Homo sapiens: one gene and its partners. The protein of the gene in region 2 interacts with the protein of the main gene of each other region in a pairwise test. Each region holds a gene or a part of one and is shown on either strand. Other genes may lie near its edges. The genes, in order: MARK4, KHDRBS3 and CCDC187.

Region 1 (3,650 bases), on a different chromosome or scaffold from region 2:
GTCCCAGAGGCAGTGGGTTGCGGGAGGTGGGTTCCCTATGTCCAGATTAGACACTCTGTCCCCCTCCCCTCCCCTAGGGTCGCAGACGAACCTGAGAGAATCGGGGGACCTGAGGTCACAAGGTGAGTGCTTGGGCCTACCCCTGACTGCCACTTCCCCTCTCCTGCCTCAGCACCTCCCGACACTTACCCCAGGGCATTAGATGGGGCCCCAGTCTCATCCTGCAAGGCCAACTTCCTGAAATGCCCTGTGGCCCCAGCCTTCTCTGCCAGCTCCTCTCATTCCCACCCAACCCCAAGCACCTTCCCTTGATCATCTTAAACTTCAGCCTCCGGCTGGGTGCCATGGCCCAAGCCTGTAATCCCAGCACTTTGGGAGTCCAAGGGAGGCAGATCACCTGAGGTCGGGAGTTTGAGACCAGCCTAAGATGGAGAAACCCCGTCGTTACTAAAAATACAAAAATTAGCCGGGCGTAGTGGCGCATGCCTGTAATCCCAACTACTCGGGAGGCTGAGGCAGGAGAATCGCTTGAACCCGGGAGGCAGAGGTTGCGGTGAGCTGGATTGTGCCATCGCACTCCAGCCTGGGTAGCAAGAGTGAAACTCCGTCTGAAAAAAAAAAAAAAAAAAAAAAAAAAGCCTCATCCCATCCACAACTCAACTCCTCTTCTGGTCAATGCCCCCACCTCCTTTTGCCTCTCATCCAGTCATGGCACAATGTTTGCTGGCAGCTCAGGGCCAGCAGGAGGCAAACATCTGTACGGACCCAGATCATGAAGATTTTAGGCTTTGAGGGCCAGGCACCCTGTGTCACGCCTGTTCAGTTGTGCCATTGTAGTGCAAAAGCAGTCATATTCAACACAAAACAAATGGGTATGGCAGTGTTCCAATGAAACTTTATTTACAAAAGCAGACAGCACTGGAGTTTGCCAAGCCCTGGTTTTGTCTGAGTTCCCGGTTTAGAGACCCAAGTGGAAACCGGAGCCTTCCCAGCAGCTGCAACAAACTGCCAGGGCTGACTCTCATTGGTTGGGACTTGGTCACATGCTCATTCCTAAACCAATGCCTGCAGCCAGAGAGGAGAAGTACTCTGGTTGGTCAGACCTGGTCATGTGGTCACCCTTGACCCAAGCACAGTGGCCGGGAAGTAGAATGCTATCATTGGCAGAGCTGAGTCGTGCTCACCCAAGCTGAGGGGCGGCCCCACCGGAACAAGGGAGGCTAGTCCTGGGATGCTCATGTAGAGCAGCACTCTCGTACTTCAGGCGGGACGTTTCTTTGTTGTGCAGGGCCCTCTTGCACATTGGAGAATGTTTTTCATTCCTGACCTACCCCATCCCCAACCTAGTCAGTGCCAGCAGTGCTCCCATCCTAAGACATGTGACAATCAAAAAGCCCCCAGAGGCCGAGCACAGTGGCTTATGCCTGTAATTCCAACAACTCAGGAGGCCAAGGCAGGAGGATCACTTGAGCCCAGGAGGTCGAGGCTGCAGTGAGCTGTGATTGCACTACTGCATTGCAAGACCCTGTCTCAAAAAAACTAAGAAGTGGCCGGGCACTGTGGCTCTCGCCTGTAATCCCAGCACTTTGGGAGGCCAAGGCAGGTGGATCACCTGAGGCCGGGAGTTTAAGACCTGCCTGCCCAACATGGTGAGACTCCGTCTCTACTAAAAATACAAAAATTAGCTGGCCGTGGTGCCTGTTCTCCCAGCTACTTGGGAAGCTGAGGCAGGAGAATTGCTTGAACCCGGGAAGCAGAGGTTGCAGTGGGCCAAGATTGTGTCATTGCCTTCCAGCCTGGGCGACAAGAGCGAAACTCTGTCTCAAAAAAAAAAAAAAAAAAAAAAGCCGGGCGCAGTGGCTCACACCTGTAATCCCAGCACTTTGGGAGGTCGAGGCGGGCAGATCACAAGGTCAGGAGATCGAGACCATCCTGGCTGACACGGTGAAACCGTGTCTCTACTAAAAATACAAAAATTAGCTGGGGCCAGGCGTGGTGGCGCGTGCCTGTAATCCCAACTACTCAGGAGGCTATGGCAGGAGAATCGCTTCAACCCAGGAGGCGGAGGTTGTGGTGAGCCGAGATCGTTCCATTGCACTCCAGCCTGGGTAACAAGAGCAAAACTCCGTCTCAAAAAAAAAAAAAAAAAGAAAAGGAAAAAGAAATTTCTCATTCAAACATTCAAACCATGTGGCCAAGCCAGGCTGGTAAGGCCACTGTGATCTATGCGGTCATTCAGGTCCCCAGGTTATTGCATCCCGATTCCCTGGAGCCCTTGTCATCTTCACAGTTGAGGCTGGCCTGTGCCACTGCTAAGTCCAGCTCCTGGGAGATGTGGGACAGGAGAGCCTGGCACATGCAGGTTCTTTGAAGGAACTGATGTGGATGGCACATCTCACTTCTGCTCATGTCCCAGAATTTACAGACAAGGTCACACCTGGTTGCAAGGGAGGCTGGAAAGTGTGGTCTCTAGCTGGGCAGCTCTGTATCCAGTTGAAACTGTCGCTGGGGTAACAGGGGAAGATGTTTTTTGAGGGGATGGCTAGGAATGTGTCCCGAATTGGGAAGAGTTGTCCCTTCAGCCCTCCACCACATTCCTCTTCGCTCCCATCTCTGACCCCTGACATCTTCTCGCCTCAGTTGCCATCTACCTTGGGATCAAACGGAAACCGCCCCCCGGCTGCTCCGATTCCCCTGGAGTGTGAAGCTGACCAGCTCGCGCCCTCCTGAGGCCCTGATGGCAGCTCTGCGCCAGGCCACAGCAGCCGCCCGCTGCCGCTGCCGCCAGCCACAGCCGTTCCTGCTGGCCTGCCTGCACGGGGGTGCGGGCGGGCCCGAGCCCCTGTCCCACTTCGAAGTGGAGGTCTGCCAGCTGCCCCGGCCAGGCTTGCGGGGAGTTCTCTTCCGCCGTGTGGCGGGCACCGCCCTGGCCTTCCGCACCCTCGTCACCCGCATCTCCAACGACCTCGAGCTCTGAGCCACCACGGTCCCAGGGCCCTTACTCTTCCTCTCCCTTGTCGCCTTCACTTCTACAGGAGGGGAAGGGGCCAGGGAGGGGATTCTCCCTTTATCATCACCTCAGTTTCCCTGAATTATATTTGGGGGCAAAGATTGTCCCCTCTGCTGTTCTCTGGGGCCGCTCAGCACAGAAGAAGGATGAGGGGGCTCAGCGGGGGGAGCTGGCACCTTCCTGGAGCCTCCAGCCAGTCCTGTCCTCCCTCGCCCTACCAAGAGGGCACCTGAGGAGACTTTGGGGACAGGGCAGGGGCAGGGAGGGAAACTGAGGAAATCTTCCATTCCTCCCAACAGCTCAAAATTAGGCCTTGGGCAGGGGCAGGGAGAGCTGCTGAGCCTAAAGACTGGAGAATCTGGGGGACTGGGAGTGGGGGTCAGAGAGGCAGATTCCTTCCCCTCCCGTCCCCTCACGCTCAAACCCCCACTTCCTGCCCCAGGCTGGCGCGGGGCACTTTGTACAAATCCTTGTAAATACCCCACACCCTCCCCTCTGCAAAGGTCTCTTGAGGAGCTGCCGCTGTCACCTACGGTTTTTAAGTTATTACACCCCGACCCTCCTCCTGTCAGCCCCCTCACCTGCAGCCTGTTGCCCAATAAATTTAAGAGAGTCCCCCCCTCCCCAATGCTGACCCTAG
Region 2 (3,650 bases):
TAAAGAGGCCTGACACTACACGAAATGTGTGATCTTGACTTGGGTCCTGTAAAAGACAAAACCAGAACAACTGGTGCCATCAGCATGTGAACTGTAGATGAGATAACAGCACTGTGTGGTTGTTAAACTTCCTAATTTGGATCATTGTATGACAGCTATGAAAGGGAAGGCCCTTATTTTTAATAAATACATGTCAAGTTATTTAAGTATTCATTTGTAAAAGATAATATATGAGGAACAGAAATATATGTGTAATAATCTCATCTTAGATACAACGAATATATTCTATGTTAAAAATTTATAGTGAAATTAAACAAATACGAAACCACTGTCATTTAATCTTGTTTAATTTTTATTTTTAATTGTGGGGGTACACAGTAGGTGTACATGTTTATGGGGTACATGAGATATTCTGATACAGGCATGCAATGCATAATAACCACATCAGGGAAATGGGTATCCCTCACCTCAAGCATTTATCCTTTCTGTTACAAACAATCCAATTATACTCTTTTAGTTATTTTAAAATGTATGACAACCACTGAGGTGGCATCCTGCCTGCCATGTGCAGATGAGGGAATAGAGGCTCAGTGAGGTAAAGTCATGGTCCAGAACACACAGGTCAACTCAGCAATTCAACAAATATGTGTCGAATAAATGAATAAAATGAAAGGATAAATTTTTTAAGTCCTGGGGACTTGTTAACAGCATTCAGCCCTGCTAAAAGTTACTAAAACAGGAAGCCTGGCTTTGTCCAAAATTCCTCCCACATTTTATAGCTAGTACTCATCAAGTCTCAGCCCACTCAAGTCAGTAAACAGAAGGCAAGAGGAAGCAGAAATTTGCACACCAACTGACAAATCTTTTGTTACTGTTGTGTGCTTTCTTATACAAATCAGATTTGGGAATTTGATTTATATATTCCAAAGCAAATTAACTGTGAGGAGTATAATTTTCCCCCAAAATAAACATATTACCATGGCCAGTAACCGTAAGTCAGACTATCCTAACAAGTTATTTGACAAAAGCTTTCAATTTAATGTTTTTGGAGTATACTTTTCTTTAGGGCACACTAATCCCTATAATATAAGTTAGCTTTGTGACCTCGAACAAGTTATAAATCCCTCTAACCTCCACTTCTTACCTGTAAAATGAGAACAACAAAACTAAATTCACGTGAAAGTCATGGATTAAATGAAGAAATGTGTGAAGAACCTAGCTACAGTGCCAGGCATACCTCAGGCGCTTGAGCAATGGTGGCTACAAAAAAAGGCATGGCTTTCTGCAAATATTGATTAGCAAGTATGCCTCTTAAGAGATCAATAATATGAAAAATACCAATGCATGAAAATCAAAAGCAATGCACGTTTATTGATCAAGACTCAGTTCAGAAATAGCTACCAATGCGAAAGAAAGAAGGTAACCTAGCTATGTGGAGCGCCATCTAGTGGAAGAAAAGCAGAGCACAAACGGCACAAACATTGAAGCAGAGAAAGAACAAGGAAAAATGTTGAAAATGAAAACTGCCCCTTATCTTCATCATAATTTCTATATTTTCTCCCATGGGAGCACGAATCAACAGTGACCCCAAGTGTAAGATATATATCGAAAACAGACATTTAAAAGGGTGCCCTCACATACTCTTGCCCTTTATCATATCAACGAAGAACATCAATAATATGCTAGGAGCACCTTTTAAAATTCTTAAAATAGCAGCAGGGGCTGATTGACGAAAAATTATGGAAATGTAAAAAATTATGGAAATTTACAGCTTACCAATTCAGAGTAAGGTATCTTGTGCTTGTGGAAAGAGGCTGCTGGGTGTCCAGACATGTTTTAAGATATGCAGTCTTAAAACTGTTTATGGAAGCTTCATTTGTTAATTTAAGCTTCAGGTGCTGTGTCTTGAATAGCATAATAAAAATCAATCAGAGCTGCTGCTAATTTTGTGCATGATATTAATGAAAGAAGCTTCCTAAAGACTGAATTTCTCCTTCAATATTTCCTGGATTGGAAAACTAAAATAATTCTAACAACATAAAATTACCCTAAGAAATGAAAGTAGATGATTTATGTATTGAATTTGTATTATATACATTATATCTGAAAAGTGATGTCGATACTCACACATCTGTCTTACAACATTTTATAAAAATTGCAGGTAACGTTTATTAAGCACCTACTATGTGTTAGACACTGTACTTACGTCTAAAACAGCAACCCTACAAAGAAGGCATAAGGTCCCCAATTTCACAGATGGGGAAACTGAGGCTCTGAGAAATAAAGTAACTTGCAGGGGATTACAGACTAGAAAGCTGTCACCTGTAATCACATGGCTCTTTCTGCACCAGCTCATTCCTTGTTGAGTTAACACTGTTTCCCAAGTAAATGCTACCTACCAGATGTTGCCACTGGTCAGAAAGTTCCTATGCCGTTTTGCCATGCCCCTGTGTGCCCTCTGTATGGTACGCAACTGCCCTGCTCACCCAGTCCAATACTAGGCATGTAATTTGAAGAGCTGCATAATCCAAATTCCCCACAAAAGTAAAACATGAAAAACAAGACATACTCAAAGCTTCCACCTCTATCTGATGCTAACAGGTGCCCTACATAGTGTCATAGTGTTGGGCAGACAAAGATCTGAATCCTGATTCACCAGTTACTAGCTATGTGTTCTTAGGCAAATTATGTGACCTTCCTGACCTCGGTTTTCTCATCTATAAAATAAGGTAAAATGACTTACTCTTTTAAGACTGTTAAACTAATTCAATGAAATAACATACATAAAGCACGTAAACCAGAAAAGGCTCTTGATAAATGGTAGCTACTATCATTAGCAACTGCAGGGCAAGTATATTTAAACATATTCCCCCCTTCCAGAAAGCCAAAAGCATTATCTGTGGGAATACTTTTTTTTCTTTTGTGAACCTATTTTTAGAGAATGAAGAATTCACAAATATACCATAAACTGACTATAAATCCCTGATATCATACTCTCGACTGTTTTTGTGATAAGCAAAGTATTAAAATACAAAGAGCACTGCACCTCTAGGAGGCTCCCTCAAGAGACAGAACTTCAGCAAGAATTTCACTGGCTTTCTATATGGAATATTTTTCTATTTTCTTTTTGGTCACTGAAATATATACATATTTAAAAATCCTTACTTTGAATGCCTACTGAAGACTGCCGGAGAGCACAGGAGAAAAAAAAGTGAGCTTGCCTTTTTGGTAAAACACATTTTCAGTAACCCCTTTTAAAAATTCATCACCAATGGAAATTCCTAAGAGGCTTCTGCTATAATGAAACATTTATTTAAAAACAACAATGTTGAGTTCTGTCCTTTTACCTCTTTTCTTAAAGTATCTTAACAAAATACTGCAGACTTGGTTTAAAATTTCAGCCTGACTACTTATAAGCTGTGTACCTTGACTGGGCAAGTTACTTAGTGTTTTTGAGCCTTAGAGGCCTCATTTGAAAAAAATAAAGGAGGCACGCAGGGAATAAAACCTCCTACCTTGCAAGATCTTGCGGGGATGGGAGAGAATGCACAGAAAGCAGCTGGCACGGAAGAGCCTCAAATTGGTGGCTTTTATAATCATCATCCCCAACGCCAAGGAACACTCTCCTTCTATTGTTTTGGTAGAAGATA
Region 3 (3,650 bases), on a different chromosome or scaffold from region 2:
ACTCACACTCATATACACACGCCCTCACATGCTCTCACACACACACTCATATACACACGCCCTCACATGTGCTCTCACACACTCACACGCTCATATACACACGCCCTCAAGTGCTCACACTCACACACTCTCACACTCATACACACGCCCTCACATGCTCTCACACACACATTCACTCACACGCTCATATACACACGCCCTCACATGTGCTCTCACACACACTCACACGCTCATATACACACGCCCTCACGTGGTCTCACACTCTCACGCGCTCATATACACACGCCCTCACATGTGCTCTCACTCTCACACGCTCATATACACATGCCCTCACGTGCTCTCACACACACATTCACTCACACACACTGCTTATTCCACCTGGCTCTGCAGGGCCAACACCACACATGCCAAGGGTCCCTGGCCCCTATGCCCCTTCCTTAGGCCCAGCCCAGGGCAGCTCCACCCCGTGGCCTGGGGTCAAGACCACTGTGGAGTCTCAGCCAGGGCTGGCCCTGGCCCCCATGAAGGGGGACTTTCTGCCAAATGAGAGTGCCTTGGGCAGGGACCATCCAGAGAGCTGAGCACCCAGGGGCAGGCTCCCGGACTGAGTCAGGGACTTCCCTAGCACCCCCCAGACACGGCACCCTCCTCACACTGCCCTGACCCCTGGCCATCAGCCACAGGCCTGAAGCTACCTCTCCAGGAAGGTGAATGGGCTACATGGTTGCACCCACCAGGCCATGCCCTCCCAAAGCCACGTCCCCAAGGACAGGCTTCCCATGGCCACGGCCTCTCCAGGACAGGACCCCAGGCCATGCCCCACACCCACTTTAGGGCAGGACCCCTTAAGGCCATACACTGTCTAGGACAGGACCCCAAGGTAGAGGAAGGTTTAGGGCGTGGTCTCAGGATTCTCAGACCTGGGTTTAAGTCTGGCTCTGCCACTCACCAGCCATGGGCCTCAGGCAAGTGTTTCACTTATCCATGCCTCAGTTTCCCCATCTGTAAAATGGGGTGCCTATCTCACAGCACCTCCCATAGGGCCACAAGAATGAAAGGGCAGTCACGATCATTGCAGGAGTTAGGCCTGGAAGAGGGTCAGGATTCCACTGGCTCAGGGTGGTGTCAAAGGCCGGAGTTGAGGCCAGCGTGACCCAACTGGTCACAGCTGGGTTTCGGGGGGGACCCAGCGTGGAGGGGAGCCCCGGTGGGGTTTCTCCATCCTAGTCCCTACAGCTGCTCTCCCTCGCTGGGTTGCTGGGCCAGGGACCCGCCTGGGGAGGGGCTGCCCGCCTGCCCGCCCGGCCCCTCCATTGCTGGCCACTCACTTCCCCATTAGCCCGCCAGAGGGTCCCGCTCGATAAATGGGTCCTGATGGGCACATTTTTTCTTCCGCTGAGCAGTTTAATGGCAATTAATTTTTTTACGAGAGGATTTTTAATCTGTGGAAATGGATGAAGTCCCCAAGTGCCCTGTCAAAGTTCTGGGGCCGACCTAATCTATGATAAAAAATGCAAAGTGAGGTGATATAATCTGAAATTAAATATCAGGCTTCATTTTCCTTTGGCCCGGATGGATGAATATTTTATAACTATTGTGATTTAATTTTTTGTTAACTACAGCAAATTTCTAATTCATCCAATTCCCAAGTCCTGTGGCTCTGACCTCTGAACCGAAACTCATCTCTCCTTAGCCCAGCTGTGACTTCGTCACTGACAGAAACTAATGGTCAACACTGTCAGGGTGACACGGTGTTTACGATGATGAATGCGGCCGGTGGCATGCCCTCTGACCCAGTGTCAGGCAGAAAGCAGGTCATTTTTCAACAGAGCCATTAAAATAAAACAAACCAAAGACCTGGGGGAGGGAGGGGGTGATCATGCAGAAAATTGTTATATTGTACGCATGTTTCCACGGCCTTCCGGAACCTTCTGGGTGCCCGGGTCCCTACATCGCAGTCCCCTTCTGCTCGGCCTCTGGCCCCGCTGAATGCACACGGTGGCCCCGCAGCCCCGCTGAGCTCCCACCTCACCCGCGTGTCCTCTCTGGGTATGGGCACAGAGGCGTTTACTCTCGGCTGGAAGCTGCTGCTCTGCCTAGGAGCAGAGGGGCCGGCAACTGATGACACGGGACAGATGCTTAGGCACCTGGGCACGGACAGAACGCACGCCACGCAGTGCCCCTCCCCACGGCCCCAGGGCTGTGATTGCACGCAGTGTGGAGAAACTGAGGCATGGAGCATTACAGGAGTGGCCAGCGAGCTGGCACTGCTCACACTTGGAGTGAGGGTCCCACAAAGCCAATCTCAGGCGTTCACTCCACCTGGGGGCTCTTGCTGGTGTCTCCAAAACGCTGTGGTTCGGTGGCCCCAGAATCCACGCCTGGAGGGTGGCCTCGACAAGCTGCCCAGGCGTGGCCCCAGGTGCACACGGCTGGGCTTCCAGGTTAGGAGCACCGGCCTTGGGCTGGACGGGTGGGAGGCTCTGCCTCTGTGCAGCCCCGGGCAGGCTGTGGAAACTCTGTGAACCTCGGTTGCCTCATCTACAAAATGGGAGCAAGACTGCCAACCTTGGCGGGGAACCAGGAGGCTGCAGTGAGCTCACAGAGTGCGGGCACTGGCCACTCCCCTGACCTCGAAGACGCCCCAGAAGGAAGCCCCAGAGGGACTCTGCCTGCCACCCACCCGCTCAAGGGCAGGGGCCGCTGTCAGGTTCGCCCTGCAAGCTCTGAAACCCATGCCCAGGCTGGGCCGCTGGGTCTCTGCAGGGCACTGACACCTCTGCCCAGTCCTCAGCAGGGAGATGCCTGGATCAGAAATTCCTCTGTGACCACTGGGATCCACCCACAGGATTACCTGACTGGACTCTCCGGGAAACACGCATGAAATTAATCGTAATGCAAGCACATGGCTGACTCACACACCCCCTGTGCCTGCACAAAGTCCCCAAGCTACTGGAGGGAGTGGGGTCTGCGGAAGACCCTCTCCCACCCCCAAGTGTGCAGGTGGAAGGAGATGCCCTGGGCTTGCTCACTAAATGTGAACGTGTGACAAAGAAAGCAAGCACGGCTCCCTCGGCCAAGCGTGCCCTGAGCTGCCCACTGCATGTGCACACATGCCAGTATCTGTTACTGCTCTGAAGAGCCGTGAGCTGCAGGTGGCGTGAGCTGCAGGTGGCGTGAGCTGTGGGTGGCGTAGGCTGTGGGTGCCGTGAGTTGCGGGTGCCATGGGCTGTGGGTGTCCTGAGCTGCGGGTGCCATGGGGTGTAGGTGCCCTGAGCTACGGGTGCCGTGAGCTGCGGGTGGTGTGAGCTGCGGGTGGTGTGAGCTGCAGGTGGTGTGAGCTGCGGGTACCGTGAGCTGCCAGTGCATGCTACAGTGTGGTTGAACAGCTCTGTTTTCTTAGACTCGCCCAGTCTCTGGGTGTTGAGAGGACAATAGTGCCTGGTGTTTGGTGGACTTTCACTTTGTCTCAAGGGACACGCCCCTGCCCGGACAGGAACCACCTGCTGCTCCAGTGGTGGCCAAGGTCACCAGTTGCCTGGGACACCAGCCCTGACGCTCCAGCCGGGCCTGCCGATCCCAGGTGCCCTGCAGAACCCTGTGTACATGGCAGTCCGACTGGCCAGCCCCAGCCCCAGCCCCAGAAATGA

Evidence for each region.
Region 1: the proteins of KHDRBS3 (region 2) and MARK4 interact in a two-hybrid assay, tested with the Homo sapiens proteins (one large-scale study listed by BioGRID).
Region 3: the proteins of KHDRBS3 (region 2) and CCDC187 interact in a two-hybrid assay, tested with the Homo sapiens proteins (one large-scale study listed by BioGRID).

The regions. Positions count from the first base shown.
Region 1 is NC_000019.10:45,299,734-45,303,383, forward strand, and holds part of MARK4 (MAP/microtubule affinity-regulating kinase 4), read left to right. Parts: intron 1-77; coding exon 78-122; intron 123-2,640; coding exon 2,641-2,977; 3' UTR 2,978-3,650. UniProt on the Homo sapiens protein: Serine/threonine-protein kinase. Phosphorylates the microtubule-associated protein MAPT/TAU. Also phosphorylates the microtubule-associated proteins MAP2 and MAP4.
Region 2 is NC_000008.11:135,463,842-135,467,491, reverse strand, and holds part of KHDRBS3 (KH domain-containing, RNA-binding, signal transduction-associated protein 3), read right to left. Parts: exon of another isoform or gene 3,604-3,650; coding exon of another isoform or gene 3,516-3,603; intron 1-3,515. UniProt on the Homo sapiens protein: RNA-binding protein that plays a role in the regulation of alternative splicing and influences mRNA splice site selection and exon inclusion. Binds preferentially to the 5'-[AU]UAAA-3' motif in vitro.
Region 3 is NC_000009.12:136,293,990-136,297,639, forward strand, and holds part of CCDC187 (coiled-coil domain-containing protein 187), read right to left. Parts: intron 1-3,650.